Linked DNA regions of Homo sapiens: regions 1, 3 and 4 are each linked to region 2. Evidence: fine-mapped expression QTL. A gene starts in region 2. Each other region holds a variant in brackets. All regions are shown on one strand. Distances are between the middles of the regions.

Region 1 (8,089 bases), 100 kb before region 2:
CCCAGCTACTCGGGAGGCTGAGGCAGGAGAATGGCGTGAACCCGGGAGGCGGAGCTTGCAGTGAGCCGAGATCACGCCACTGCACTCCAGCCTGGGCGACAGGGCGAGACTCCGTCTCAAACAAACAAACAAAAAAGAATCATCCTATATCAGAAATCTATATTAATGTAATTTATCATATTCACAGATTAAAGTAGACATACCTTGCAATTATGTCAATTAATGCAGAGAAAGCATTAACTAAAATTCAACCTACAACTGTGACTTTAAAAATTAATAAAAACTAGGACACTTCTTTAACTCAACAAAGGGAATCTACCAAAACACCTACCAGGAACATCATATTAATGATGTAATATTGATAGCATTTTCTTTAAAGCCTGGAATTAAGCAAAAATGCCCTCTGTTCACTGCTTCCATTTAACAATGTACTGCAGAGCCTAGCCAGTGTAGTAAGTCCGTGTAGTCAGTAAATCTATAGAATAACTCATTAATCTAACGAGAGAGTTGAGAGAGTTTAGGAAGATCTCTAGATGCAGGCTCAACATAAACAAAAATTAATAGCTAAATCAAGGATTCAGGTTGAAATCTTTACAGTAATTACTAAAAAAATAGAAAAGGAGTATATAACTTCCAAGGCAATGGGAGAGAGTGAGAAGGAAAAAATTATCAAAATTCAATCAAACCAAAACACAAGTCAGTAAGAATATAGAAGAGTTAAATAAATTAACAAATGCACGTACATAGAACATTGTTCTCAACAATGCATAATACGTGTTTTTTTCAAGTGTACAGAAAACATTTAACAATATCAACCAAATTCTAGGCCATAAACCAAGTCTACACAAATTTGGAAGAAAAAAAAAATAGTATGTTCTGTGTCCACAGCACAATACAACCAGAAATAAAAAACTTTTTTTTTTTTTTCAGATGGAGTTTCGCTCTTGTTGCCCAGGCTGGAGTACAATGGTGTGTTCTTGGCTCACTACAACCTCCGCCTCCCGGGTTCAAGCGATTCTCCTGCCTCAGCCTCCCAAGTAGCTGTGATTACAGGCATGTGCCACCACACCTGGCTAATTTTTGTACTTTTAGTAGAGACGAGGTTTCTCCATGTTGGTCAGGCTGGTCTCGAACTCCTGACCTCAGGTAAACCACCTCCTCGGCCTGCCAAATTGCTGGGATTACAGGCGTGAACCACTGCGCCTGGCTTCACAAATAAAAAACTTAAAGATAAATGCAAAAGTCTCCTATGTTTGGAAATAAGGAAGTATACTTCTATACAACTCACGGGTCAAAAAAAAAAAAAAACACCAAGCACAGTGAAAATTGGAAAATAATTTGAACCCAATAAAATGAAAATATTACATATGAAAACTTGTGGGACGAAGCTAAAGCAACTCTTAGAAGAAAATGTATAGCCTTAAATGCTAAACAGAAAACAGAGTGGTCGACACTCTAAGAATTATTCATCTCAAGAAGTCAGGAAAAGAACAAATTAACCCATGGAATACAAAAGAAAATACTAAATATAATACTAATTCATGAAATAAAAAGTAAATAATAGAGTCCATTAGTAAGGCCAAAAATTTGTTATTTTATTTATTTATTTATTTATTTATTTTTGAGATGGACTCTCGCTCTGTAACCCAGGCTGGAATGCAGTGACGCGATCTCAGCTCACTGCAAGCTCTGCCTCCCGGGTTCATGCCATTCTCCTGCCTCAGCCTCCCGAGTAGCTGGGACTACAGGCGCCCGCCACCGCACCCGGCTAATTTTTTGTGTTTTTAGTAGAGACGGGGTTTCACCGTGTTAGCCAGGATGGTCTAGATGTCCTGACCTCGTGATCCGCCCGCCTTGGCCTCCCAAAGTGCTGGGATTACAGGCATGAGCCACCGCGCTCAGCCACATTTGTTACTTTTAAAAGACTAGTAAAATTGATAATTCCCTGGTGAGACTAATCAAAAGAAACAAAGGGAGAAGGCACCAAGAAAATAATGTAAGGAATAAAAAGGGAATGCCCCTGTAGACATTAAAATGGTAAAATGATATTGTGAATAATTTGATGCCAAGACATTCGCAAACTTAGATTAAATGGACAAATGCTGGGAAAACAATAACCTACCAAAACAGGCTAAGGAAATAAAATTAGAGAGAATTCTATATACGAAACTGAGCGATAATTTAAAAACTTCTCCCCAGAGAAAACTCTAGACAAATGTAGCTTCACTGGTGAATTTCACCGTACACTTAAAAAGAAAAAAAAAAACAGCACGCATAAATTCATCGAGGGAATAAAAAAAGAGAAAATAAAATCTAACTCATTTTATGAAGCCAAGATTTGAAAAAACTATGAGAAAGGAAAATTACAACCAATCACACTGGTGACATGAATTTGAAAATCCTAAACAAATATTAACAAATAGAACCCAGGAATTTAATAAAAAAAAGTTTAATAATTATTTAATAAAATAGTATAGCACAACTCAATCACATTTATTCCAGAAATATGTTGGTTTACCACTTAATCAATCATGTAATTAGCCACATTTATTTATAAGATAAAGGGGAAAAATTATCATCTCAAAGATTCAGAAAAATCTGGAAAAATTCAACATCCATTCATGATTAAAAAAAAAACTCTCTCAGCAAACTAAAGACATTGTTTTTTCTTTTCTTTTTCTTTCTTTTTTTTTTTGTTGAGCCAATGTCTCGCTCTGTCACCTAGGCTGGAGAGCAGTGGTGTGATATTGGCTCACTGCAATCTCTGCATCCTGAGTTCAAGCAATTCTCGTGCCTCAGCCTCTAGAGTAGATGGTATTACAGGCATGCACCACCACACCTGGTTAATTTTTTATTTTTTAGTAGAGATGGGGTTTCATCATGTTGCCCAGGCTGGTCTGAAATGATGTGCCCCACTGGGCCCCGCAAAGTGCTGGGATTACAGGCGAAAGCCATGGCGCCTGGCTAAGGAATTTCTTCATCTGATAAATGGTAGCTCACACACACACACACACACACACACACACACACACATGCTCGTAAAGCAATTGGAGAGACACTGAAAGCTTTTCCTTTGAGAATAGAAGTGTACACTGATGGCTGCTGTTGCCACTTCTAATTCAACACTGTACTGAAGGTTCTAGCCAGTGCTAGGGGGGAAAATGACTGAAAAGGAAAAAATACAATGTATTATTTTCACATGATATAACTGTGTACTATAAAATCCAAAAGAATCTATAGATAATTTAGTAGAACTAATAAGTGAGTTTAGGCTGGGCACAATGGCTCAGGCCTGTAATCCTAGCATTTTAGGAGGCAGAGGCTGAGGCTGGCAGATCACTTGAGCCCAGGAGTTTGAGACCAATCTGGGCAACATGGCAAAACCCCGTTTCTACAAAAAAATAAAAAAATTAGCTGGGCATGGTGGCACCTGCCTGCAGTCCTAGCTACTCGGGAGGCTGATGTGGGAGGGATTCCCTGAGCCCAGGGAGGTTGAAGCTGCAGTGAGCCATGATCGCATCACTGCACTCCCGCCTGGGTGACAGAATGAAACCCTATCTCAAAACACACAAACAAACAAACAAACAAAAAGTGAGTTTAGTCAAGTTGCTAAATACAAGATTAATGAATAAAATGAACTGCATTTAAATCAACAACATTTAGAAAATAAACATTTTAAAGGGATATCATTTAAATAACCACAAAATATCAAATATCTAGGAATAAATCTCATCAAAAATATGCAAGCTTTCTACACAGAAAATGAGAAAACATTGTAAAGAGAAATGGAAGGAAACCTAACTGAATGAGAGAACATCTCTCTTCATGGGTTGGATGGGTCAATATTGTAAAGATTCAATTCTCCCCAATCTATAGATTCAACGCAATTCCAAACAAATTTCTATCAGGTGTGTGTATTTGACCAGCTGACTCCCAAATTTTTTTTTTTTTTATACTTTAAGTTCTAGGGTACATGTGCACAACGTGCAGGTTTGTTACATATGTATACATGTGCCATGTTGGTGTGCTGCACCCATTAACTCGTCATTTACATTAGGTATATCTCCTAATGCTTTCCCTCCCCCCTCCCCCCACCCCATAACAGGCCCTGGTGTGTGATGTTCCCCTTCCTGTGTCCAAGTGTTCTCACTGTTCAACTCCCACCTACGAATGAGAACATGCGGTGTTTGGTTTTTTGTTCTTGCGATAGTTTGCTGAGAATGATGGTTTCCAGCTTCATCCATGTCCTTACAAAGGACACAAACTCATCCTTTTTTACAGCTGCATAGTATTCCATGGTGTATATGTGCCACATTTTCTTAATCCAGTCTGTCATTGATGGACATTTGGGTTGGTTCCAAGTCTTTGCTATTGTGAATAGTGCTGCAATAAACATGCGTGTGCATGTGCCTTTATAACAGCATGATTTATAATCCTTTGGGTATATACCCAGTAATGGGATGGCTGGGTCAAATGGTATTTCT[C/A]GTTCTAGATCCTTGAGGAATCGCCACACTGTCTTCCACAATGGTTGAACTAGTTTACAGTCCCACCAACAGTGTAAAAGTGTTCCTATTTCTCCACATCCTCTCCAGCACCTGTTGTTTCCTGACTTTTTAATGATCGCCATTCTAACTGGTGTGAGATGGTATCTTATTGTGGTTTTGATTTGTATTTCTCTGATGACCAGTGATGATGAGCATTTTTTCATGTGTCTGTTGGATGTATAAATGTCTTCTTTTGAGAAGTGTCTGTTCATATCCTTCACCCACTTTTTGATGGGGTTGTTTGTTTTTTTCTTGTAAATTTGATTGAGATCTTTGTAGATTCTGGATATTAGCCCTTTGTCAGATGAGTAGATTGCAAAAATTTTCTCCCATTCTGTAGGTTGCCTCTTCACTCTGATGGTAGTTTCTTTTGCTGTGCAGAAGCTCTTTAGTTTAATTAGATCCCATTTGTCAATTTTGGCTTCTGTTACCATTGCTTTTGGTGTTTTAGACATGAAGTCCTTGCCCATGCCTATGTCCTGAATGGTATTGCCTAGGTTTTCTTCTAGGGTTTTTATGGTTTTAGGTCTAACATTTAAGTCTTTGATCCATCTTGAATTAATTTTTGTATAAGGTGTAAGGAAGGGATCCAGTTTCAGCTTTCTACATACGGCTAGCCAGTTTTCCCAGCACCATTTCCCAGCACCATTTTTTAAATAGGGAATCCTTTCCCCATTTCTTGTTTTTGTCAGGTTTGTCAAAATCAGATGGTTGTAGATGTGTGGTATTATTTCTGAGGGCTCTGTTCTGTTCCATATCTCTATATGTCTATATCTCTGTTTTGGTACCAGTACCATGCTGTTTTGGTTACTGTAGCCTCGTAGTATAGTTTGAAGTCAGGTAGCGTGATGCCTCCAGCTTTCTTCTTTTGGCTTAGGATTGACTTGGCAATGCGGGCCCTTTTTTGGTTCCATATGAACTTTAAAGTAGTTTCTTCCAATTTTGTGAAGAAAGTCATTGGTAGCTTGATGGGGATGGCATTGAATCTATAAATTACCTTGGGCAGTATGCCCATTTTCACAATATTGATTCTTCCTACCCATGAGCATGGAATGTTCTTCCATTTGTTTGTAACCTCTTTTATTTCGTTGAGCAGTGGTTTGTAGTTCTCCTTGAAGAGGTCCTTCACATCCCTTGTCAGTTGGATTCCTAGGTATTTTATTCTCTTTGAAGCAATCGTGAATGGGAGTTCACTTATGATTTGGCTCTCTGTTTGTCTGTTATTGGTGTATAAGAATGCTTGTGATTTTTGCACATTGATTTTGTATCCCAAGACTTTGCTGCAGTTGCTTATCAGCTTAAGGAGATTTTGGGCTGAGATGATGGGGTTTTCTAGATATACAATCAAGTCATCTGCAAACAGGGACAATTTGATTTCCTCTTTTCCTAATTGAATACCCTTTATTTCTTTCTCCTGCCTGATCACCCTGGCCAGAACTTCCAACACTATGTTGAATAGGAGTGGTGAGAGAGGGCATCCCTGTCTTGTGCCAGTTTTCAAAGGGAATGTTTCCAGTTTTTGCCCATTCAGTATGATGAATGAACTTCTCTACACTGGTTACTCTAGTCAGCCATTCGTCTAATCTTCTTTCAAGGTTTTTAGCTTCCCTGCATTGGGTTTGAACTTCCTCCTTTAGCTCGGAGAAGTTTGATTGTCTGAAGCCTTCTCCTCTCAATTCTTCGAAATCATTCTCCGTCCAGCTTTGTTCCTTTGCTGGCGAGGAGCTGTGTTCCTTTGGAGGGGGAGAGGTGCTCTGATTTTTAGAATTTTCAGCTTTTCTGCTGTTTTTTCCCCATCTTTGTGGTTTTATCTACCTTTGGTCTTTGATGATGGTGACGTACAGATGGGGTTTTGGTGTGGATGTCCTTTCTGTTTGTTAGTTTTCCTTCTAACAGTCAGGACCCTCAGCTGCAGGTCTGTTGGAGTTTGCTGGAGGTCCACTCCGGACCCTGTTTGCCTGGGTATCAGCAGCGGAGGCTGCAGAACAACAAATATTGCTGAGCAGCAAATGTTGCTGCCTGATCATTCCGCTGGAAGCTTTGTCTCAGAGGGGTACCCGGCCGTGTGAGGTGTCAGTCTGCCCCTACTGGGCGGTGCCTCACAGTTAGGCTACTCGGGGGTCAGGGACCCACTTGAGGAGGTAGTCTGTCCGTTCTCAGATCTCAAACTCCGTGCTGGGAGAACCACTACTCTCTTCAAAGCTGTCAGACAGGGACATTTAAGTCTGCAGAGGTTTCTGCTGCCTTTTGTTTGATTCCCAAATTTATATGGAAATGTAGACGGCCTAAAATACACAAACAATTATGAAGAAAAAGATGATTGTCCTCACTTGACTGGAAATAAGGACTATTAGAAAGCTACAGTAAGATGGTTGTGCTATTGGCACACAGATGAAAAATCAATGAACAGAATAGAAAGGTCAGAAGCAGACTCATGTTCTGCAGGGAAGTAAAGAAATAAAAATCTTCTCAACCAGTGTGCTGGAATAATTGGATAGCCATATATGGAAAAAGATGAAACTTAACCTCTTCCTCACACCACACCTATAAATCAATTTTTAAATGAATGAACCATCTAGAAGAAAATATAGTAGTAGAATGTCTTTAAACTCAAGGAAAATTTTCTTAATCAGGACACAAAAACACAAACTTTATAAAGAGAAAGCATAATACCTATGATGGTAATACAACTAAGAACTTCTGTTAACCAAAAGATACTCCTAAGAGAGAGAAAAGGCAAATCACAGAGCAGAAAAGTTTTCTTGAAATACATATATGACCAATAACAGAATGGAAATCAGAATATATAAAAAACTGCAAATCAAGAGAAAAAAAGACAAATAATCCAGGAGAAAAATGGGTAAGAAAACTTAACAGTTACTTTACAAAAAAGGATATCCAAATACTTAATAATCTTAAGAAAACTTCTTCAATCTTATTAGTAATTATAGAAATGCAAATGAACACCACCATAATATGCCATCACACAAACACCCAATGGCTAAAAATCAAAATACTCAGAATTGCAAGTACTGGGGAAGATATGGAATGCTTCGAGTGTGCGATACCAGTGGAGTGAAAATTGGTACAACTGTTTTAGAAACAGGTGACATTATCAAGTATAAAGTTCAAGATTCATTACCTTAAGACAGAACCATTTTAGTCTGAGGTACATACTCAACAAAAATATGGCCACATATGCAACAAGAAACGTGTATTTTTAAAAGCAGCATTATTGGGCCAGGCGCAGTGGCTCACCCTGTAATATCAGCTCTTTGGGAGGCCGAGGTAGGCAGATCACTTGAGGTCAGCAGTTCGAGACCAGCCTGGCCAACATGGTGAAACCCTGTCTCTACTAAAAATACAAAACAGCCAGGCATGGTGGCAGGCGCCTGTAATCCCAGCTACTCCAGAGGCTGAGGGATGAAAATCACTTGAACCTGGGAGGCAGAGGTTGCAGTGCGCGAGATCATACCACTGCACTCCAGCCTGGGTGACAGAGTGAGACTCCGTCTAAAAAAAAAAAAAAAAAAAGCAGCATTATT
Region 2 (8,107 bases):
GTTCGAGAGCAGCCTGGGCAACACGGCAAAACCCCATCTCTACAAAAAAATAAAAAATTAGTTGGGTGTGGTGGTGGGTGCCATAGTCCCAGCTACTTGGGAGGCTGGGGTGGAGGACTGCTTGAGCCTGGGAGTTGAGGCAGTGGGCCAAGATCCCGTCACTGCACTAGAGGCTGAGTGACACAGAATGAGATCATCTCTCAAAAAAAAGAACGTTAGTTTCTAGGCGGTATTGCAAAGAAAATCCCTCCTCAAGAAACTGACTTAACTTATTTTTACAGCTATAAACTGGCTAAGGCAGACTGTGAGCATCTCTTAGCAAGTGATTTTAACAATTTTGTGTACTATAACGATAGGAAAAAATACGGTCAATTAGACATGCCATTGATTTTAAGACAGATCCTAAGTTCAGAGATCACATTAAAATGCGTGATCTCTCATTCTCTGAAAAAAAAAATGAGGCCAGGAACAGTGGGTCACACCTGTAATCCTAGCACTCTGGGTAGAGAAGGTGGGCAGATCACCTCAGGTCAGGAGTTTGAGACCAGCCTGGCCAACACGGCGAAACCCTGTCTCTACTAAAATCAAAAATATTGGCCAGGCATGGTGGCAAATGCTTGTAATCCCAGCTACCCTGGAGGCTGAGGCAGGAGAATCGCTTGAACCCACGAGGCAGAGGTTGCAGTGAGCTGAGATCGCGCCACTGCACTATAGCCTAGGCGACAGAGCAAGGCTCCGTCTCAAAAAAACAAAACAAAACAAAATATATATATATATATTTTACATTTGACATAATTTAGTAGTTAATAATTTTGCTTACATTGCCTTTCATATCTATTTGTTCTGTCAGCTTGGAGAAGGAACAGAACTTTGACACAACCTGTACTATACATTTTGAACAATGGTGAAGGAAGATCAAAATGTGCCACTTAACAGGGTATCTTAGTAGCTAACTGCCAGCTAACAAAACAAAACTCAGGATGACAAGAAGAACCCATCTTACTCACCTGTCCAGTGGGGAGACTTAATCCTATTCTGTCTTATTATAAAACTGCCCTCAGAAGGGTTATCGGAAATGAGTCTTAGGATATCTATACTTTAGAGATTGTAAAATATAACTGTTTAATTCTGAAAAGCTGCAACACAGGTTGGTTGTCTTATTTAATGATTCACTGCTGAGGTGATAACATTTAAATTGACATCTGTTTTCCTTTTTTTTTTTTTTGAGACAAAGTCTCGCTCTTGTCACCCAGGCTGGAGTGCGATGGCCTGATCTTGGCTCACTGCAACCTCCGCCTCCCAGGTTCAAGCGATTCTTCTGCCTCGGCCCTCCCCGGAATTACAGGCGCCTGACACCACACCCGGCTAATTTTTATATTTTTAGTAGAGACGGGGTTTCACCATGTTGGCCAGGCTGGTCTAGAACTCTTGACCTCAAGTGATACACCCGCCTCAGCCTCCCAAAGTGCTGGGATTACAGGCATGAGCCACTGCACCCAGCCAACATCTGTTTTCTGAAAGGAATAAATGTAGTACTTAAGCCACATGAAGCGTTTTAGAATTTTCTTTTCTTCCTATTAAGAGTATTATAAACCCCTGACCTTGTTGGATTCTTTATTTAAATAAGTGGTTGAGAGTCACTGTCTGAATCCATATTATCTCTACTTATTCCCTAGTAATTTCATTCCATCCTAAGGTTTTTAAGTAAATATCATCTGTATACTAATCAATTCCTGAGTTTATGCTTCCAGCCCCAACCCCTCCCCTGAACTTCAGACACACAATTATTTGGCATATCTGCTTGGATGTCTGGTTGGTACCTCAAACATAGTCAAAACAGAACTCCTAATTCCCCAGCTCCTCCTTCAGGCTTCCTATTTCAGTATACGGTTATCACCATTCATTTACTTATTCAAATAAAAAACCTAGGATCACCTTTTTGTCTTAAACAAAGAAATAAAAGATTTATTTGTGAAGGATAAACTGTTTATTCCAAACTAAAGCAACTTATTAATATAAAGTTAGAAATTATTTTTAAAATTTTAGAATGCCAAACTTACACAAAGTTGCAAAAATATAAACAGGTCAAAGAATATCTGTACACTCTTTACCCAGGATCCACCTATTGTTAAAATTTTTATCCCATTTGCGTTATCATTTCCACTCTCTGAATATGTGTGTGGGTGGTATATACAATTTTGTTTACCTGAGACAATTTTTTTTTTTTTTGAGACGGAGTCTCGCTCTGTCACCCAGGCTGGAGTGCAATGGCACGATCTCGGCTCACTGCAACCTCCATCTCCCAGGTTCAAGCGATTCTCCTGCCTCAGCCTCCCCAGTAGCTGGGATTACAAGCACCCACCACCATGCCTGGCTAATTTTTTGTATTTTTAGTAGAGACGGGGTTTCACTGTGTTAGCCAGGCTGGTCTTGATCTCCTGACCTCGTGATCTGCCCACCTCAGCCTCCTAAAGTGCTGGGATTACAGGTGTAAGCCACAGCACCCAGCCTAAGCCTGTAAGGATGTTATTACTGGTTATCCCTAGAGAGTGAGGGGACCTTTTGCCTTTCTGCTTCATCTACTTTCATGGGTTTTTGTTTTTGCTACAGCTATGTACTATCTAAGATATTTTAACAAAATAATAAAGATATTTCTGTGGAGGGTTGAGACTACAACTAGTAATCTCTAAGCATTTGGGAGGGCCACCCAACCCTTCCCTGATGAACTCCCCCATACACTGAGTAAAAAGCTTTGCTAAATAATAGAAAGACTGACCTTTGTGTGGTGTAAACAGTAAGTTGATAATCTAGTCTATGCACATACTTTGCTTTATAATTGTTTTTTTCTCTTAGACTGTGAATTAATTTACGTAGAAAACGATAATCTAGGCCGGGCGCGGTGGCTCATCCTTGTAATCACAGCACTTTCAGAGGCTGAGGTGGGCGGATCTCAAGGTCAGGAGTCCAAGACCAGCCCGGCCAACATAGTGAAACCCGGTCTCTGTTTAAAATACAAAAATTAGCAGGGAATGGTGGCACTTGCCTGTAGTCAGTCCCAGGTATTTGGGAAGCTGAGGCAGGAGATTCACTTGAACCCAGAAGGTGGAGGCTGCAGTGAGCCAAGATCACGCTACTGCACTCCAACCTGGCAACAGAGTGAGACTCTGTCTCAAAAAAAAAAAAATTAATAAAACGATGATCTAATGCTGCACCATCCAATAAAGTAGCCACTAGCCAATGTGGCTACTGAGTGCTTGAAATGTGGATAGACCAAATGGAAATGTCCTGTAACTGTAAAATAGACACCAGATTTTAAAGACGTTGTACCACAAAAAGACGTAAAATAATATGTAAGCAGTTTTTCTAAATGTGGCTACTAGAAAATTTAAAATTACAGATATGGCTTACTTTACATTTTCATTGGACAGATCTGATACAATTTTACAGAAGTGAAAAGAAATAAACTTGACCTTACCTGGATAACATCTCATTTTCCTGCTTGTATGCAAAAAGCGTTTTTCTTCTCAACAGATGTTCCTTGAGTTTTTGTCTTCTTTGCTCTAGATAACAAAGGTAAGAGCTACAAGTCAATATTAGTTAAAACATCGATAACGGCAAATAAATCTTGTTGACTAAATGAAGAGTTTACTTCCAAAGCTGGTTCCACCTGAGGTCACATCTATATAACAGAAAATTCTCCAATTCAATATTGCCTTTGAGAAATCACCTTAGAAGAGACTGTTACCACAACAGGTCCCCAAAACCCCTCTGCATAAGAATCACATTCTCTACTCCCTGTGAAAAATCTGGAGAACATCATTTTCTACATACAGCTCCTGCTAGCCAAGCTTTAAGAAACTAAATGGTAGAAGTGAGGCACTAGACTCGAAAGTTCTAATTTACCAGAACTGGGTTAGATGAGAATTACTTTCTTCTGCTTTCCCGTGTGTAGAATAAGGGAATAACAATATTAGTTTTGAAGACCCAACCAACCCTCGGTTTCCATAAAGTCGAAGGAGAAGCTGTGAAATTGGAAATAACACATGATGCGACCCCAGCCCTGCAGAAATTCGCTAGGGACCTAAGAGGCGGAGGACCCAGCGCAGGCGCAGTCGGTCCCTGAACCTGTGCAGCCCCGCCCCCAAGCGGACCCAGGGTCTCCGACACCGACCCCGGCCTGAGGCCCGCGCGTTTCCCCTCGCCTAACGGATTCCTTCTTAGGAGGGCCCATCCCAGCCAGCAGCGACCGCACAGTAACACCACGCAGCGGTTCCTGTTTTTATGATCCGTTCCACAAGGCCAAGAATGAGGCAGGGCGAGGCCGACGCCGCGTTCAGGGATCTCACAGAGCGGGGGAGAGGTGAAGCGCGCCAGCGCGGCCCCGAGCCCCGACCGCCGGGCCCGCGCCCGCCACCGCCACCGCCACCGCCACCGCCACCGCCACCGCGGCCTTCACCTTTGAATGCGGACTGCGCCCTCTGACTCGGGGGCAGCTGCAGGTCCTGGGGCACGGCCGGTGTGCTCATCGTAGCCTCGGGTCGGGGGATGCGTCTCCGCTTTAGCGCCAAGATAGAACTTCCTCAGACCACCGCCGCCGCAGTCTGCACCGCGGCTAAGCCGTCAGACGGCGCGGCTGCCGTCTCCGCCCATTGGTTCCTGCGTGAATTGAATAAGCCAATGGGCGTAGGGAGGCGGAGCCTGGACTGCAGTTGCCGGGGCCGGTCTGGTGTCTGCCCAGTTCGGTTGGGACTGAGTCTGCAGGTTTCAAACCTAAACAGCGCTCTTCATCCTGGACGTGCGATGGGGGAGGAGTCGGCCTGCTCAGTCCCCACGACATAGCAGGACTAGGTTGACAAACAACCGAGATGGGACACATCTTGAGACCCTCACAGTCCTTGGAGGAAGGCAGACGAGAAAAAGACAAGAAAAGTGTTGATTGGCTGCCCTTCTTATTAAACATCGACGCGTTCACTGACGAGGACGTAAACACCGATCTGGCGTACCACGAGCGTGTGTATTTTCGTTTCACAAATACTGCTTCATTTTGAGCATCAATTCTGAGGTGGGACGTTATCACCACTTTTTCCACTGAGAGGTGACAGGTTCAGAGGTTGTTTGTCCACGTTTGCACAGCGTGTGAAGGGGAACTGAAATTGGGATCTACTTTCCATACCTTTATTCTAAGCAATTATCAAATGCAAAAAAGGGAGGAGAGGAGGAGAAACAGAAAAAAATGAAGATAAACCTCATCCCCTCCTCAAGGTTATATATAATTCTCCTTTGAAGATAAAATAGCATTTGTTACAGACGTTTTGTGTTTGTGTGGTTAAGTGTGCCGCCATAATCTTCGTTTTTCTCATCTAAAAATACCACCTTCATAAAACCCACACAAACACTCAATCCACATGACAGAACGAAACAAGTCAGGGCTAGAAGGTTTTAAGAGTGGCAGTGGGGAAGTGAGGGCGAGTCTGGACTGCACCTGCCTGGTTTCAAGCACTGGGTTTACATTTCTTGCCTGATCACTGCAGTAAGGCTGGACTGGACTCTTTCAGCCAGGTTTTAGGTGCTCCGGGCACACAGACGGGAGGATGTGATTTCCCCGTTTACCCTTCCCAGGTCTGAGGGCCTCCACAGCTGGCCCTCGGCTGTGGTCAGTTTTTCCCACTTCTGCCTGCTTTTTTCTTCAGACATCTTATGGTAGCGTCTTGCTAATGAGGAATTTGGTTTGAGATTTTGTGTAGTTTTTTACTTGATGAAATGTCCCAGTTTTAGTTTAACATTGTCCATCACCATCCTTAAGATATAACTTGCTGTTTAAATACGTCTGTCATTATTGTTGATTATTTACTAAAGTTTCATCAGACAGGTGGGGCAACCAGGGATTTCTATTAAGTGAGAACAAAATACAGCGTTAATAAGTGACTCAAAAACCTCCAAAACATTATGCTAAGTAAAAGAAGTAATATATGAAAAGTTACATATGGTATGATTCCATTTATATGAAAGATCTAAAATAGATACATCCATAGTGAAATAACTCAGAATAGTAGTTGCCAGAGGCTGAGGGTAGGGGGAGAATTGGGAGACAGTTTAATGGACAAGGGTTTCATTACCTTGAAGTAAGTGAAATGTTTTGGAATTAGAGGTAGTGGTTGGGTGACATTGTAAATGTATTAATGCCATTGAGTTGTTCACTTTAAAATGATTAATTTTATGTTATGTGAACCTCAATAATTTTTTATAAGTGGGCATGGTAAAAAAAGAAATTGACTCAAAGGATACCATGGAGATCTCAGTAGGCTGAGATGAATAGGAAAACCTGCCAAACTGCTAGGTTTTTCAAAATGGCAATTCTCCTCTAATCTCCAGACTCACCCACTCCAATGATATGTCTATTTTTGAGACACTTTTTAATATTACTGCTACACAATTATTGCAGAGAAAGCAGACCTTTTTCTAAAAGATCCAAAAAACAAACAAAAAAAACAAAACAAAAAAGATTTCCTTTCAGAACAGTTCTTTGCCAACACAGCTGACCATGAAACTGCAGGCACCTGGAGTACTGATGATTAATTAGTGTTAGTCGTTCCTCCTGTGGTCATGTGAAGAAGGTAAAGTGCCTGTGAGAGAACAGGGAAGGACAATCTGAAAGTTAGGAGGACAATGGGGACACAATGGGGTCACAAAGTCTGGGGAAGAGAGAAGCTGAAGAAAGAGGTAATGGACCACAGTGTTGGGCACTACAGAGGTCCAGTAGGATTGGGACTGAAAGGAACCATCTGATTCAGAAGGTGGGAGGTCCTGGCAAAAACATCCTGGGGATGGCTGGGCGTGGTGGCTCATGCCCGTAATCCCAGCACTTTGGGAGGCCAAGGCGGGTGGATCACCTGAGGTCAGGAGTTCAAGACCAGCTTTGCCAACATGGTGAAACCCTGTCTCTACAAAATATACAAAAGTTAGCCAGGCGTGGTGGCAGGCACCTGTAATCCCAGCTACTCGGGAGGCTGAGGCAGGAGAATCGCTTGAACCCAGGAGTCAGTGGTTGCAGTGAGCCGAGATTGTGCCATTGCACTCCAGCCTGGGCGGCAGAGTGAGACTCTGTCTCAAAAAAAAAAAGCATAGACCTAAATGTAAGAACCAAAACTATGAAGCTTCTAGAAGAAATTATAGGAGAAAATCTTAGTGACTTTGTGTTAGGCAAAGATTTCATAATCAGTATCAATATCTGGTTTGTGGAAAAAAGATTTCTTAAATAGGCAAATTCCATGAACTATGAAAGAAAAAAATACACTGAACTTCATAAAAATTAAAACCTTTTGTCTATTCATTTATTGCCATATATAAGCCACATGACGTTTCTCCTTGCTCCAGCCTGGATACAGGAAACCCTTATACGGTTGTCTATCCCAGCAGCTATCATATGCCAGGCTTCTATTTGTGTCCTACAGACTGTACATCCCTCAAGGGCAGAAAACATACCTTGCAAATGTCCTCACTGCCTAACATGTTGATAATTGCAAAGCCCAGGCATAACTGCACAGTTCCACATCTGATTAGGATGCTTAGGTCACATTACTTTCAATTAAAAAAGACTAAAAAGTTGGTAAACAATCAAATGCTCAAAAATCAGGCAATGATGGTAAATTGTGATATATATTGATAGCATATTACAGCAAATCAAATGTTTTCAAAGAACTTTTGGTTATTGGGTATATGGTCATGATGGAAATTGAAAGATATGAAATACAGAAGACACTGTTTAGAAATAGACCAAAATACACACAGGATTTTGGAACACGGTAAAAGTAGCAATTCATTTCGGGGGAGAGATGGCTTATACTCATTGGAAAGAGCCTTTCCTTTCTTTTAATGCCTAGCCACAGACCACTGACTCCACGACTGGGGGAAATGTGGAGCCCTGGGGGCAGAGAGCAAGCCTGCCCTCTGTCCCTCTGCCCCTGTGCCCCTCTGCCCACGTGGGCACGCAGCCTTAGTTAAGACCCCAATAAGTGGTAGGCTCTCTAAAATGTGTTCACAACCTTTAAAGCAGTCATTCTATTTTAGGAAGACACTGTAAGAAAATAATCCTAAAGAGAAAAATATG
Region 3 (8,107 bases), 290 kb before region 2:
GGTTCCTCTAACCTGCTCTGTTCGTTCAGTGCTGATGGGGAGTCTTGGCTCCTTCATGTTCTCCAGCCCCAAATGGTCGCTGCTCTTATAAATTCTTTCTTGTATTCCTCATACAACTGATATCAACTTCTCCCACACTCCCTAAGCCCTGCTGGCTCCTCCAGCCTCTTTGTCTCAGCAGATGGTCTTCTCGGCTTATTTACTGGCACTATCAAGTACAACATCTGCACTTGAATTTTCACAGCTCTTCAACTTAACATGTCCAAAACTCATCCGGTGCTTTCTACATCTACTCAGTTGTTTGTGCTTGATACATGAGGTCATCCTGACTTCCTCCCTCACTCACCTCACACTCAGCCAGTCTCCAGAGCGTGTTGATTCTACCTCCAGCATGGATCTGAAATCCTAATGGACTCCTTCGGATTAATATTTCTTCCCATCTATATCACTTACAATTATTCTAGTTCAGACCAACATCATATCTTGCCTGGACCACTGCAAGAGCTTCCCAAAAAGTCTGCCTCTGGGCCAGGTTCATTGGCTCATGCCTGTAATCCTAGCACTTTGAAAGGCCAAGGGAGGAGGATCGATTGAGGCCAGCAGTTCAAGACTAGTCTGGGCAACGTCACGAGACACTGCCTTTACAAAATAAATACATGTGTATATTAATTAATCAGGCATGGTGCATGCCTGTAGTTGTAGCTACTCAGGAAGCTGAGGCAGGAGGAAAACTTGAGCTCAGGAGTTCAAGGTTACAGTGAGTCTCTACACTCCAGCCTGGGCAACAGAGCCAGACCCTGGCTTTAAAAAATTAAAATAAGGTCAGGCGCAGTGGCTCACTCCTGTAATCCCAGCATTTTGGGAGGCAAAGGCGGGCAGATTACCTGATGTTAGGAGTTTGAGACCAGCATGGCCAACATGGTGAAACCCTGTCTCTACTAAAAATACAAAAATTAGCTGGGTGTGGTGGCGGGCGCCTGTAATCCCAGCTACTCGGGAGGCTGAGGCAGGATAATTGCTTGAACCCGAGAGGCAGAGGTTACAGTGAGCCGAGATCATGCCACTGTACTCCAGCCTAGGCAATAGAGAGAGACTCTGTCTCAAAAAAATAAAAATTAAAAATTTAAAAAAAAAAAAACTACCCCTTCTACTTTGCCCACTCCAGTTTGATTATTCTGCCCCACAGTGGCCAAAATGATATTTTTAAAATGCAAACCAGATCACACCATTCCACTGCTTTAAACCCCTCAATGACTTCCTGATACTGAGAGGAAATTTTTCAAAATTCTTAACATAGCCTAGAAGACTTTATTAGCCAAGGTAACTGTCTCTCTCTGTAGTGTCATCTCTGGCCATTCTTTCTTTTATTCTTTAAGATCTAGCTTTCCCTTTTTCCAATGCCAAACTCTACCATTTCATGGCCTTCTAACATGCTGTCCCTCCACATTTCCCACACCCTTTCACCCATCTCCACCTGGAAAATTCCCCTTCTCTCGGTTTTCAACCTAAATGACACTTCTTCAGGTGCTTTCCCCATTCCCCACTCAGGGTAAATTAGATGTTATATGATCTTAGTGTAGCCTATGTTTTTCCCTCATACTGTGTGTTACAAATGCAATGACATCATATTTTGTGATTACCTGCTTAATGACCATGTTTTCCACTATTCTATAAGCTCATCAAGAGCAGGGGCCATGTCTCATGTGCTCATTACTGTGTACCCAGACCTGGCACAGTGCCTGAGAGCAGAGTTGGGTTATAACTTCCAGGGAATGGGCCTACAGGTGGGCCCAGCAGCAGAGTGGGTAGAAGAAAGCAAGCCTGTGAAAGGGGGCACCCCTTTGATTTCATTCTTCACGAGTGTCTAAGTTCATTTTGTGCTGCTAAAACAGAATACCACAGGCCGGTTAATTTATAAACCAAGCTTATTTGGCTTATGGTTCTGGAGGCTGGGAAGTCCAAGAGTAAGGTGCTGTACCTGGTGAGGGCCTTTGTGGCAGAAGGTGGAAGAATGAGAGAACACATGCCCATGTGAGAAAGGGAAAGGGAGCCAAACTCATCCTTTTATCAGGAACCCACTCTCATGATAACTACCCCACTCCTGCAACAGTGGCATTGATCCTTTCACAAAGGCAGAACCCTCATGACCTAATCATCTCTTAAAGGTCCACCTCTCAACACTTGCATTGGGAATTCAGTTTCCAGCACATGAATTTTGAGAAACACATTCAAACCACAGCAATGAGCCTCCCAGTCTTGCTCCCTTACTGCTTTTTCTACTGCCTTTTCATTATCTATAACCATCATCATGTGAACACACTACCTTAAAATTGTTGAAAATATGCCACTTTAGGAGAATGTGCTCAGAGGAGGCAACTGATCTCCATACCCACTCCTCACCCCTCACGCCCTGGTCAGCTACTTTCTGTATATTATGTGTTAAAAATGTATGAATGAGGCAAGGTCTTGCATTTCCCCTGATTCCTCACCCTCTCTTCAATGTCTGTTTGGCCCCAAAGTATCCACTCACCACTCACTCCCTCCAGTCCTTCTCTCCTTCTCAAGGTTCATCAAGGGAAGGTGGTACCTTCCTTGATCCTCTAACTCCCCTCATCTAAAACTTCCTTACATTCATCCTTCTTCCCCTCAAGTTGAAAGTTGTTAAAAGAATTGTCTCCATTTGTAGCATTCACTTCCTCCCCACCTACTCACTGTTATTTAGTGCTTTATTCACTCAATTCCTGAATAGCTAATGCGTGTTCACAATATAGAATTCAAAACATTTCAGAAGGTTCACAGTTAAGCATCTTCTTTCTACTGGTCTCCCCAAGCTTCACATTTTCCTCAGAGGCAACCCCCACTACCAGCATCTTATCTTTCCAGAAAGCATATACTTACATTTATTCTTGTTTGTATTTCTTTATACAAATGGAAGCATTTCTACGCATTTTCTACCTTTTGCTTTTTTCACTTGAAGTATCTTAGAGAGTGTTCTATCTACATCACTACATCCAAAGCTGCCTCATTCTTTTAAAGGGCTGCCAAACCCCCACGGTGAGAATGGATCATAAATTGTCTACTCTGGACATTGAGTATATTACTAGTGCTTTGTTCTAACAAACATGCTGCAGTGAGCATCGTTGCACCTGCAGGATTTTTCCACCCTTGTGAGTGCATCTGTAGGATAAATCCATAGAAATGAAACTGCATTTTGCATTTTGGAATTAAATTGTTCTCCATAGAAGTTGTACCAATTCACCCACTACAGTAGTCCATAAATTCACTGCCCCTCATATTTTTCAACAGATTGTTTTAACAAGCGTTTTTATGTTTTTCCAGTCTCATAGGTGAACCAGTCTACTTTTAATTTGCATTTCCTTGTATGAATGCAGTTGTGGCCAGGCGTGGTGGCTCATGCCTGTAATCCCAGCATTTTGGAAGGTCAAGGTGGGCGGATCACTTGATGTCAGGAGTTCGAGACCAGCCTGGCGAACGTGGTGAAACCCTGCCTCTATTAAAAATAGAAAAATTAGTCAGGCATGGTGGCTGGCGCCTGTAATACCAGCCACTTGGGAGGCTGAGGCAGGAGAACCACTTGAACCTGGGAGGTGGAGGTTGCAGTGAGCCAAAATCGCACCACTGCACTCCAGCCTGGGCGATAGAGCAAGACTCTGTCTCAAAAAAAAAAAAAAAAAAAAAAAAAAAAAGGCAAAATAATGCTGTTGTTCATTCTTCTTACATTTAAGAGAAATTTCTACTTCTTGCTTCACCAACTCTCTGTTTCCATTCTTTGCCATTTTTTCTACTACATTTTTGGTCTTTTGGTTTTCCTAGGAAAACACTATATAAGAAAACTAGTTCCTTGTCTGTGGTATAAGTTGCAAATATTTTTAATCACTCTGTAACCCTTTGCAATGTGTCTTCTGTGCCCAGGGAAGCAAATGGAACTACTCTCTCGCTGGTTCCCATGGCCTCTTGGTTGTGCCCTTCCAAGGCCTTTCTCTGTGCTCATTTTTTTTCAGCATTTGACACTGCTGACCCACCCTTCTTGAATGTGCCTTTAAAATTACATGTACTACTTTATATTGTACCATCTCCCACCTCTCTGACAGTTACTTCTCTTATTCCTTCACCAAAATTCCTGTGAAGAATGCCCTTGTGAAAAGAGGTCTTTGAACTCTGCCTCAGCAGTGCCCCAGGGATGAGCCCTGGCTGGAGATCTTGCTGGAGTTTTTTCCAAGCACCTTAAGTCTAGTGTGATGTGCAGACAGCTGTTTCCATAGCTGATTCCAATGCAGGCTCAGGACATTTCCTTGGCTCTTTTACTTTTCATCCCCACATCAAGCT[C/T]AACATGTCTAAAACTGTTTCTTCCAATTTTTTCACTTCCCTAGGGTTCCTATCACTCTCCCAATCCTCCTAGGTCTGAAAACTCAGTTCCCACAGCCCAGGAATTGCCAAGTCCTATCGATTCTTCTGTGAAAGTGGTCTCCTCCACTTCTCCCCTCCTTCCCAGCCCCAGGTCATCATGCTTGTCACCTCATTCTTCATCACATGTCTTGGATGATTCTTCAACACTTTCTCCTTCTGCAGTCCTGCACATGCAATCTCCCGCTGCCCTTTGGGGAAGCCTCAATCCCTCTCATGCACTAGTGCTCCTCACTTACACCTCACCAGAGAGCTCTGCACAAAGCTAGAATCGAACGCAATTTAAGGAAGCCTGGATCCAAATGAAGTACCATGTATCCTGGAACTGGAAGATGGCATTTCCAAAAGTGAAAATTTTATATACATACATACATACACACACACACACACACACACACACACATTTGTGTTATTCCTTTGGATACATCAGTACTCTGTGTGTGTGTGTGTGTGTGTGTGTGTGCTTTGCCATTGTTGCTTTTGTTTGCACTTATTTAATTTATTCAACCAACCAGCATGCACTTTTATTCTGGTCTCCCCAACTCCTTCCCTCCAGCCCTGCTCTGCTTAGCTCTCACTTTTGCTGCAGTTGTACCCAGACCCTAGAAAAACTGGTGGCAAGGAGCCATCCCTAAGACCCTGCTCTGTTTTCCAGTCCCAGGGGCCATCCAGCAATGCCAGGCCAGTGAGAAGGTGGCCTAACCCTTACACTCTTAGGCCAGTGTCCCCTGTCCACCTGCACCACTCTGTTGTCTTCTCCTTCACCTTCCATGAGCCATCTTCCCCCCACCCCCACCCCAACACACACCTACAAAGACCCTGCAGGAAATGGCCTCCAGCCAGTTGTCACAGCAGAGCCCGCTGACATTCTAAGACATCCTCCGGTGCATGGCTAATTGCTCTGGCACTTGAGTATTTCTTTGGGTCCCAGGATTCAGCATCCCGCTCTGAGGGATGCAACCACCCCCACACATTCAGAGTCACCGGGATGCTGTTTGGGGGGCCAGTAGACAGGATAGAGTGAGGAGGAAAGGGGGCATCCGGGAGTGCAGGACGAGCTTCCCGCGGCGGGAGAGAGAAGGGAGGAGAGAGGTGAGGCGCTGGAAGGGGTGGGGACCGCTGGGCTGGCCCAGGCGGGACCGTGCACCGTGTGTGCGCGCGGCGTTGAAATGCCCTGCACGTCGGGGCAGCGGGACAGATCCCAGGGTGCCCAGGGAGTCTCCAAGTGCCTCACTCCTCCCGCCGCAAACATGACAGAGAACTCCGACAAAGTTCCCATTGCCCTGGTGGGACCTGATGACGTGGAATTCTGCAGCCCCCCGGTGAGTACCGCCAGGGATTCCACACGCAGGGCCTGGGTTGTGTGAGTATCAGGTTCCACAGTTCGGACTCAGGGGTGCGTGCCACCGAATGGGTGTGTTGGCGGGGGGATAAATTTGGGTCCCAAATGTGTGGGTGGGATGTCGCCCCACGCGTATGAGTGTGCAGGGGTCACGGCATCCACAGGCGGGTGCGGAGGGACGTCCCGTGGCCGGTAGAGGGTGCAGGTCCTGGGGCGAAGGCCCTGTGCTGCGGGGTTTGCTCATCCCACTTCCACGCCCGACTGCAAAGGACCCTCGGGAGGGAGCGCGGCGAAAGGGGCACCCGTAGGAGCCCGGGCGAGCTGTTTCCCGCCCGACTCCCCACTCCCTGGGGGCTACCGCGTGGGGCCCGGGTGCGCTGGGGGCCGCAGGTGCTGGCGGCACAAACGCGACGGTCCCTCTCCCGCCCCGGCCCGCAGGCGTACGCTACGCTGACGGTGAAGCCCTCCAGCCCCGCGCGGCTGCTCAAGGTGGGAGCCGTGGTCCTCATTTCGGGAGCTGTGCTGCTGCTCTTTGGGGCCATCGGGGCCTTCTACTTCTGGAAGGGGAGCGACAGTCACGTAAGTCCAGAGGGCGGCGCGCGGGGACCCCCGTGTCGCCCATGGTGCCCCTAGGGGGAGCCCGAGCGCGGGCCGGCGAGGGGCGCGCGGCTGCCGGCGGGCCCCTCGGGCCCAGCGTGAGCTCCCCTCTCCCATCCCACTCTGGCACGCGGCTTTCCGCCTTAGGTCAACGTTGTAGAAAAGCAAGTGAAGGTTTCACGGGAGAAGATTGAAGCGTAGAGTAGGGGAGAATGTAGTGGACGGTCCGAGAAAGGCCGTTCTCGGCTCATCTCCCACTAAGCAGTGGCGCGACCGTGGGGAAGGCACGTCACCTTTTGGCCTCAGTGTACTCGTCCTGAAGGGAAAAAATGGAACTGGACGATCTCTAAGGCCTGTCCCTGCTAAGAAAGGCTGTGGGTTTAAAATCCAGGACAAAGATAGTGGAGGAATATTCAGACCCATATTCAGACCCATTGGGAAGGAATTTTTGCCTTTCAGAAGGTTTTTTTGTGACCTAGCCATGAACATTCCCTTCTCTCTCTGGAAAACAAAAACAAAAAACAAACAAACAAACAAAACGTCTAACTTCCTTAAAGGTGGAAAATCTCTTTAACAATTAATTCTGGCCTAGTCATCACATGTGGTTTAATAGTAGGTGTTTTACTAACTGCTGTCCTACTTTCTTTGTATGCAACTATTTATTTTAAAGCTCCACGGCTCTCGAGGAGTATAAAGACTGTTTCTAAGTTGACTGGGCAGAGCTCCAGTGTGTTCTCTAAATACTCTGAAAGTGTTCACCTATGTAAAAGGGGGCATTTTATCTTGATGACCACTGCCAGGTCTGGTATAAGCTTATTTCAACTAATGGAAAAGAATTCCATCTCCAGGGCACACACAAAGGGCTCTTTCATAATCACTATCCTCAGAGGATTGGTGATTGCTGTTTTTTCCTCTCTCCTACCATGAAATGCAAAGCATGAACGAATTCCAGTACTTACAGAAAATGGTGCTGAAAGCAATTCAACCATTTTACACATCACGTCTTCTGCAGTCACTGCATAATTTGTATTTTTAACTCAAATGTCTAATGTAGATAAGCATGCCATTTAGCACCGAGTCTGTTTTAGAGACTATATCAAATTTACAAGCATCGATTTGTAAGATCAGAATTGCACTGTATTTTGTGGGTATTTGAAAAGTGCCTTAATGTATTTGTATTTTAAATATAGAAGCTGGGCCAGATGCTCATGTTTGAAACAGCAAATGTGAATAAGAGAATGATTTCAATATCTACATCTCCATTAATAGCAGGGTTTAGATTGTCATCTCTTTGGGAAATTCTGTGGTTTTAGAATGTAAATGCTATCTTTTAAATAACAAAGCCTCAATGGTATAGGTCAATGGGGGATAACAATAGCTATGCTTTTTTTTGGTAAAGATTCTGGACATGATATATTTTAAAATGAATACCATTTGTCATTTAATTATTCAAGGTAAACATCACTAACTGACAGGCTTCTAAAAAGAGAGATTAAACAATCATACTGAATAAGCACAGCTCCCTTTTTTCATATATTTTACTTTACTGCAAGATGGTTGGTTGTCTGGTTCAGGAGAGCAGTATTAAATGCTAAGAATTCAGAGGAATAGTGAATCACATTTTATTGTCAACAATCAAAATTATTGCTATATCCTATACAGACAGGAGAATGAAGAAAATCATGATAGTTTTTTTCTCCCTGATCCATATGACTTAAGTATGAAAAACAAATCACAAAATAC
Region 4 (8,107 bases), 120 kb before region 2:
CTAGGATTTCTTCACTTTCCATTTCCCCAATTCTGTTTTCACAAGGAAGCCCCGGAATTCCCTTAGCCTTGTCCTTTTCCTAGGGCAAGCTGTTCACAGTGGCTCTCCTTGAATCTATCTTCAAGGAGTTGAAGAGCTCTGGTACTGAATCAACTGGTTCAGAACTCAAAAGTTGGCTGCGCTGGTGGCTCACACCTGTAATCTCAGCACTTTGGGAGGCCGAGGTGGGCAGATCACTTGAGGTCAGGGGTTCGAGACCAGCCTGGCCAACAGGGTGAAACCCCGTCTCTACTAAAGCTACAAAAATTAGCCATGCGTGGTGGTGGGCACCTGTAATCCCAGCTACTTGGGAGTCTGAGGCAGGAGAATTGCTTGAACCCAGGAGGTCGAGGTTGCAGTGAGCTGAGACTGCACCACTGCACTCCAGTCTGGGTGACAGACAGATTCTGTCTCCAAAAAAAAAAAAAAGAAGAAGTACTCATAAGTTCATGGACTCTATCTTACCCATTGAGAAATGTTCATAGAAGTAACAAACTGCCATACTTTCCTTTAGAAAGGGCCAGTCATGAGGAAGGCTCATGAAAGTTCTTAACTTAGGAGTAGATGTAGTCAGTAGAATGGCCCACAATGCAGGATCAGAATGTGATGGTATCCGAGAATCACCACCAGACACAGAGGGCACTCTGTCCTGAGGTCTTGCCAACACATCTCTCAAATGTGCAGCTGAGACCCTGTGTTGCCTTCTCAGTCAATCAGAAGAGATTCAGTTGCAGCCTTTGGTGTGCTAGTTCTGGACTAAAGTTCGGGAAACTATGCATGACTACAGAAGAGATGGGGATGGGGAGACGTGTGGGGTGAGTTGCTGAAGGAGCTCTATCTAACATCTCCTTGGCTCCTGCCACCAGATTCTCCACCTTCCCCTAAAGGCTGTAACCTGCCAGGGCCCTCAAGCTGCTTTTGCTCCCATGCTTCTTTCTACTACAACTTAAAACAACATGGACTGGTAGTAGAAATTCATACAACCAACCCATAGGAGGTACTCACTACAAACAAAGAAGATATTATGAGGAAAGGGTGGAAAGATGGGTAAGCCATGGGCCTTGCCTTTAAAGGGGAAACAGAAGTCACCACTTCAAATAGCTAGAGAACAATGCAAAGTGATATCATCCCTAAGAGAAACACAAAGGGCTTTAGGAACTGAAAAAGCAAGAGACTACTTCAGGCTGGGAAGGGAAAGGGACTCTAGGAAAAGGGGCATGAGAAATGGCACGAGGGAATCAAGTGTCCATGGGCTGGGAAACAGCACACAGTCTAAATGTGTTAGAGTGTGGGATGTGTGCATGCACATAGTGGAAGAAAAGGTTGGAAAAGTCAAACTGTGGATCTTGAGTGCCAGGTTGAAACATTTAGTTTATTGCTACTGGCAGTGGGGACATACTCTGGATTTTGAGCATGGAAATGGCATGAGTAGGGCTGCACTTCAGTAAATCCACACATTCCTTTTCGCTTAGGGTCTATGACTGTTCTTTGTCTGGTTTTGTTTTTGGCTTGGGTGTGGGAGAAAAGTATCAGTGGATAAGGCTGAGTTCTTTTGCCCAAACTAAACGGGGACAGTAGTTAGTGTTCTTATAACAGGGCCAAGAGTACTTATTCAGTTCCCACCACCTAAAGAAAAACTCATTTACAGCCACATCCAAATCTATTTGAGAATTCCCAACCCACTCTCACTTCGGTTTGAGGGGCAATATAGAAAAGGCAATATAAATGAGAAGCTGTGCACAGCATGGGCTTCAGAGTCTGACATCTAGATTTCAGTCCTTGGTTCAAAAGTTAATTTCTCTGAACCTCAATTTTCTAATTTATAAGATGAGAATCATAGTAGTGCCTACTCATAGAGTTACTGAGAATATTAAATGAGATAGTGAATGTAAAACTCTTAGAATGGTTCAGCAAAGTCTAGAATGTTGTAAATGCTATACGATAAACATTCTGGTTTCTGCAGTAAACAAATTACAAGCAATAAAAAATGGCAAGAAATCTATGAACTAAAAGAGACTTAGGAGACATAGCGACCAAATGAAATGTGTGGATGTTGTTTGAATTCTGACTGAAACAAACTAAATTTTCAAAGATTTTAAGACAATTTTGGAAACAAACATGGACTAGAAATTTGATATTAAGGATTTTTAAGGTGTAATATTTCAGATATGATAAAAGTTATTAAGGGTTTTTTGTTGTTGTTTTAAGAGTACTTAGATGTCATACTAAAATACTTGTGGGATAAAATGATCTGATGACTGAAATTTCCTTCCAAATAATCCAGGTTTGGGGAAAGCAAGAGTGGAGAGTGGGGTTGGGGGTGTGAGTGGAGTGGGAAAAGTATGGATGAAACGTGGCCAGTTGCAGGCTGAAATGATTGTTGCAGCGAAGTGATGACTACATGGAGATATATTGTATGATTCTCTGGACTTTTGTATATGATTAAAGTTTTCCATAACGAAATTATTTTTAAAAGAAAAAACAGAGTAACAGCATATGTTTCATATAGGTGTTATGGGTTTTCAATGAGATATGTAAAAGTGCAGTACTGTCTGGTATATAAAAGGGTTTTTGAAAAGTTTATTTCCCCTTTTCTTTCTCTTTTAAAATACACCTCCCCCACCACACACACACACACACACACACACACACACACACACACACACACGGGAGTCACCCAAAAACAGTCTTTGTGATGTTCTGCAAGGGTTGAATTGCCCTAATAAGGATCTGTGAAAGACTTAGATCTTTTTTACATTGAAATCAAAGGCTGGTGATTTTAGATAAACTTCAGGGTCCTGGAGCCTTAGGTATTGGACTTTCCTGCTTTGGGAAAATAATCAACTCCTGAGCTCCGTAAACAATAACCAGTATAGAATAGAAAGCAGGATGCTCTGAGGAGAAGCCAGACCCCCCAACGTGTGGGTGGCACCTGAAGCATGACCCTTAGCATCAGGGAGGGACCAAGGCCTGTCGCAGGGTGCCCTAATGCTGCTGACTGATCACCAAAGGAGAAGAGTCTAAAATGAAACCAAATAACAGATGGCAATCTTAACCCACTCCCCTACAAAAGCTCCCTTTCTTAAAACGAAAACTTACCTGAGAAGGAGTTTCTACTCCCTGATATTTAGTGCCATTGGTTTTATCTGTTCGCCGTTCTCCAAAATAGTACAATCTTTCCTACAAAAAAGGAACCATGGTTCATCTGCACTCTTTCCTTTTCTATATTAGGTACCTTAGTCTTTCTAAAACCACCTTCTTTCCTAAAGTCAGTGATTTTTTTTTTTTTTATGGAGTCTCGCTCTGTCACGCACACTGGAGTGCAGTGGCAGAATCTCACCTCACTGCAACCTCTGCCTCGCGAGTTCAAGCGATTATCTTGCCTCAGCATCCTGAGTAGCTGAGACTACAGGCGTGTACCACCACACCTGGCTAATTTTTTGTATTTTTAGTAGAGATGGGGGCTTTGCCATGTTGGCCAGGCTGGTCTCGAACTCCTGACTCAAGAGATCCGCCTGCCTTAGCCTCCCAAAGTGCTGAGATTACAAGCATGAGCCACCGCGCCTAGC[C/T]GCAGTGGTCTTTTGGCAAAGGCTACCCAAATTACCAAAATTAACAAAGTCACATCAAAGACTTCTCTCATTCAAGGTTTCGTAAAGACATAAAAGTTTAGAGCTGGAAAGACCTTAGAAATCATCTGGTCCAACCCTTCTTTCCATCTTACAAATGAGAAGACTGAGACCAAAAGAAAACTACACAATCTGCCATGGAGATGCTGCAGCCAGTTAGAAGCAGCACAGGCCTGAAATACAAGTCTCTGGTTTTCAGTCTAGGGCTCTGTATCAGTGGCTTTCAAACTTTTCATTTTTTAAGTTGCAATCCACATTAATAAACCTCGGAGAAGTACACACACACACACACCAATACTTAAACCTTTTCAGATTTTCTATTCTGCTCTATTCCATTTTATTTAGTTTTAGCTTTAGTTTTTTTTTGTTTTTTTTTTTTGAGACGGAGTTTCACTCTTACTGCCCAGGCTGGAGTGCTATGGCCCGGTCTCAGCTCACCACAACCTCCACCTCCTGGGTTCAAGCGATTCTTCTGCCTCAGCCTCTCAAGTAGCTGGGATTACAGGCATGCACCACAATGCCCAGCTAATTTTGTATTTTTAGTAGAGACAGGGTTTCTCCATGTTGGTCAGGCTGGTCTCAAACTCCTGACCTCAGGTGATCCATCCGCCTCAGCCTCCTGAAGTGCTGGGATTACAGGCATCAGCCACCGCACCTGGCCGATTCCATTTTATTTTTAAGAGATGTTAGTCACAACCCAGTAACTTTATTTTACAACTCACTGATACATCATGATCCATAGCTTGAAAAACACCATCCTAGAACATCCATTTTCAAAATCTGTGTGTCTCAAATTAGAAAAACCAAAGGTGGTGGAATTAGAGTGCTGGGCATTGTGCAGAACCACCACTTCTTCCCTAGACTGTAGGCCAAACAACTCAAGCGGAGCTGCTGGAAATGGTAGCATCTCAGCAAGAAAATGGCAAAGAAAAATGACTGAGAACACTGCTGTAGGTGGAAACATCCCACCTTGTCTTATCAGAAATTTCTAGAGGCCACAGACTCCACATGTGTTGACTAAGCAGAGGTATTTACATGCAGGAGAGGCTTTGAGTTGTGAAATGTTGCCTTTTATCTACCTAAGAGGTGTGAGGATGGCCAAGGCCCTTTGGAGAATTTATCTAATTAAGCTTGATACTATTCTCATGAGGAAGGAAGAACAGCAGGGCCAGGTGAGGTGAGGGAACCATTGCGATTACTGAATGTTTTTTGTATCTGTGTAACATGGCTTTACTCCCCTCACCTTAATCCTGCCCCATCAGGTCTTGTCATTATTTAAAATGTTAATATTGTATACCTCATGGTTTTTTTGCATTAATTTTTATTTTTTAAATATTGCATGAAAAATCATTTATTTTAATTATTGCAATTTTTAGCATTCTCTTAAATTCTGCGCCTCATTGACCTCACTCTAGTCCTGGCCCAAAGAGATTCTTAAGCCAGCTACTAACCAGTGCATGTTAAACAAGGAAGTATCAAAAACAGACTTTTTAACAACCGCTTCTCCAATTACAATTTCACTAAGCACCATGACTAAAATAATCATCTTAACATCCTACCAGTGATGTTTCAGAACTAGCAAACTCAGTCATCCTAAGACAAAGTTTGTAGTAACATCTTTCATACCTCTGCAGTTAAAAATATTTCACTGGCAATCAGGCAGGCACAAACCATAGTTCCGGTTCTTCCTAGAAAAGAAAAGAAAAATTAGTTCAAGGAACATGCTTGGTATAAAAATACACTCAGAAATATTCCAGGAGTTCATTTTAAGTTGATTTTCTTTCTTTTTTTTTGGGACAGTCTCGCTGTGTCACCCAGGCTGCAGTGCACTGGCACGATCTCAGCTCACTGCAACCTCTGCCCCACAGGTGGAAAATAAATTACATTTACGGTAAAAATATTTCTCAACTACCTCTCCACGAAAGAACAAGATGAGGTTTTTACTAAATCTATTCGAAAGCAATAATTCATGTCTTATATAAATTCCTTTGGGTAACAGTAAGAAAGAAAAATTCCCAACTCATTTAGTAACACTAAAATAGCTGGTTCCAAAACTGCATAAATACAGTAGACGATTACTTTATACCAGTCTGACATATAAATGTAGATATAAAAATATATATATTTTTTCAAAGTGAATTCAGCAGTGTAGAAATACCACGTATCAATACCAAGTGCCATTTCTCTTAAGAATGCAAGGATTTTTTTCCAAGACGGCAGATTACAGGCTTTTAGCATGCCTCAGCCATTTGGAAATAGCAAGATAGTACATAAAGATCAACTCTGTGAACTTTAATTCAAGAAAGAAAACGACAACTCCCTGGAATTATGAAGGACACCCCAGATCCTTGGGAGGACAACGCAGGCAAACAGCTCTTGTGACAACATTCGACTGATAAAAGCGAGTGAAGCCTCAGTATGTGAGAGAGGCAGACAGCATCCCTCTGTCTTACCTTTCCACTGGGGATCCAAGCAACCCGGACCGAGGAGGGGCACTGTTTCTCCCAAGTCCTGGAGCTAATTTAACGAGAGACTTGGAGACTTTGTGAGGAAAGGACACAAGGAAAAGCTGCAGGCATTTTCCCAAACCTGGACTGAGAGCAGGACAACACTGGGGAACCTTCCCCATCTGGCTCCACCCATCTTCCTCCCACACCCCCACCTAACTCCCGTTCCCCTAGGGTTTAGGAGGGAGCTCAGATTAATGTGTACTCCAGGAATCAGCTCATTGCCTAAGGCAACAGAGAGCTCTTCCCAATAAACAAACAGCAAGTATATAGCCAGCACCACTGGCCACAGCCAGCTCTTACCCATCGCCGCCATCTACTGGCTTGTAGGTCAAACCACATACCCAATATAAAACCTGCTGATAGAAGTGCATATAGAAGCAAGGCCAAAAGACCTACCTAGCATTGCTCTAAAGTCACATCACCTAAGGAGGAGGGAAAGGGAAAGAATAATAATAATAATAATAATAATAATAATAATAATAATAATAATGATATAGGAAAGAAAAGATAAAGAAAAAATCCTACCCACATAAAAACAATTACAAAAATTAGAAGTGCTAGCATCTCCAGATGAGAAGAACCAGTACAAGAATTCTGGCACCATGAAAAACCTGCATGTAGTGATACCACCAAAGGATCACACTAGCTCTCTGGCAATGCTTTCTACCAAAATGAAAACTCAGAAATGACAATAAAGAATTCAAAGCATGGATTCCAGGGAAGCTCAATGAGATTCAAGGTTGAAATCAACAAAAGGAAACTTCTAAATCAATTCAGCAAATGAAGGAAGAGATAAACATCTTAAAAAGAAATCAATCAGAACTTCCGGAATTAAAAAACTCACTTAAGGAATTTCAAAATACAATGGAAAGATTTATCAATAAACTGGACCAAGTAGAGGACATAATTTCAGAGCCTGAAGACTGGTCTTTTGAACTAATGCAGTCAGACAAAAATAAAGAAAAACTATTTTTAAAAAGTGAGGAACGTCTTTGAGAAATAGGTTATGTGAAGTGACCAAACCTACAAATTACTGGCATTCCCTAGAGACAAGGAAAAAAAGAAAACAACCTGGAAAACATATTTGATGCAATCATTCAAGAAAATTTCCTGAATCTTGCTAGAAAGGTAGACATCTAGATACAATAAAGCCAGAGAACACCTGCGAGATACTATAAAAAAGTGGACATTACCAAGGCATATACCAAACAGTCCAAGGTCAACGTTAAAGAAAAAATCCTAAGGCCAGATCACATACAAAAGGAGCCCTATCAGGATAACAGCAGACGTCTCAGCAGAAACCTTAAAAATCAGGAGAGATTGGGAAGGTGTATTTTCAGAATTCTTAAAGAAAATAAATTCTAATCAAGAGCATCCTGCCAAACTAAGCTTCATGAGCGAAGGACAAATAAAGATCTTTTTTTCCAGAGAAGCAAGTGCCATGAGAATTCATTAAAACTAGACCAGTCTTACAAGAGATCCCTAAGGGAGTTCTAAACATGGAAATAAAAGAATGATACCTGCTACCATAAAAGCACACTTAAGTACACAGCTCACAGAGCCTATAAAACAACAATACAACAGAAAGTATAAAGCAACCACCTAACAATGTCATGATAGGGTGAAAAGCTCACGTCAATATTAACCTTGAATGTAAATAGTCTAAACACACCACGTAAAAGTCACAGAGTGGCAAGTTGGATAAAAAAACAAAACCCATCTGTCTGCTGTCTTCAAGACACCATCTCACATGTAACAACACCAACAGGTTCAACGTAAAGGGTTGGAGAAAGATCTCTCACACAAACAAAACACCAAAAAGAGCAGGGATCACTATTCCTAAAACAGATAAAACAGGCTTTAAACCAGCAATAGTAAAAAAGGACAAAGAAGGGCATTACATAATGATAAGGGGTTCAATTCAACAAGAAG

What was found.
Region 1: its variant is fine-mapped to the expression of CKAP2 in whole blood (TOPMed, PIP above 0.99).
Region 3: its variant is fine-mapped to the expression of CKAP2 in prefrontal cortex (GTEx, PIP 0.95).
Region 4: its variant is fine-mapped to the expression of CKAP2 in skeletal muscle (GTEx, PIP 0.93).

What each region holds. Positions count from the first base shown.
Region 1 is chr13:52,556,519-52,564,607 of GRCh38, reverse strand. All of the region lies in intron 2 of LINC00345 (long intergenic non-protein coding RNA 345), which reads left to right. It also overlaps the pseudogene TPTE2P3. Among named protein-coding and RNA genes, the nearest start is that of LINC00345, 40 kb to the left of the region's middle. The variant C/A (reference allele first, on the strand shown) is at 4,485.
Region 2 is chr13:52,451,976-52,460,082 of GRCh38, reverse strand. CKAP2 (cytoskeleton associated protein 2) reads right to left here and starts at 4,605. Exons shown (of 9, transcript NM_018204.5): 1 at 4,457-4,605; 2 at 3,476-3,560. The coding sequence starts at 4,526. CKAP2-DT (CKAP2 divergent transcript) reads left to right here and starts at 4,737. Exons shown (of 1, transcript NR_185890.1): 1 at 4,737-5,308. RefSeq lists enhancers at 4,905-4,984, 5,275-5,454.
Region 3 is chr13:52,737,270-52,745,376 of GRCh38, reverse strand. CNMD (chondromodulin) reads left to right here and starts at 5,557. Exons shown (of 7, transcript NM_007015.3): 1 at 5,557-5,747; 2 at 6,206-6,346. The coding sequence starts at 5,676. RefSeq lists an enhancer at 7,486-7,987. The variant C/T (reference allele first, on the strand shown) is at 4,348.
Region 4 is chr13:52,568,478-52,576,584 of GRCh38, reverse strand. All of the region lies in intron 2 of LINC00345 (long intergenic non-protein coding RNA 345), which reads left to right. It also overlaps the pseudogene TPTE2P3. Among named protein-coding and RNA genes, the nearest start is that of LINC00345, 28 kb to the left of the region's middle. RefSeq lists a silencer at 6,408-6,467 and an enhancer at 6,397-6,691. The variant C/T (reference allele first, on the strand shown) is at 3,609.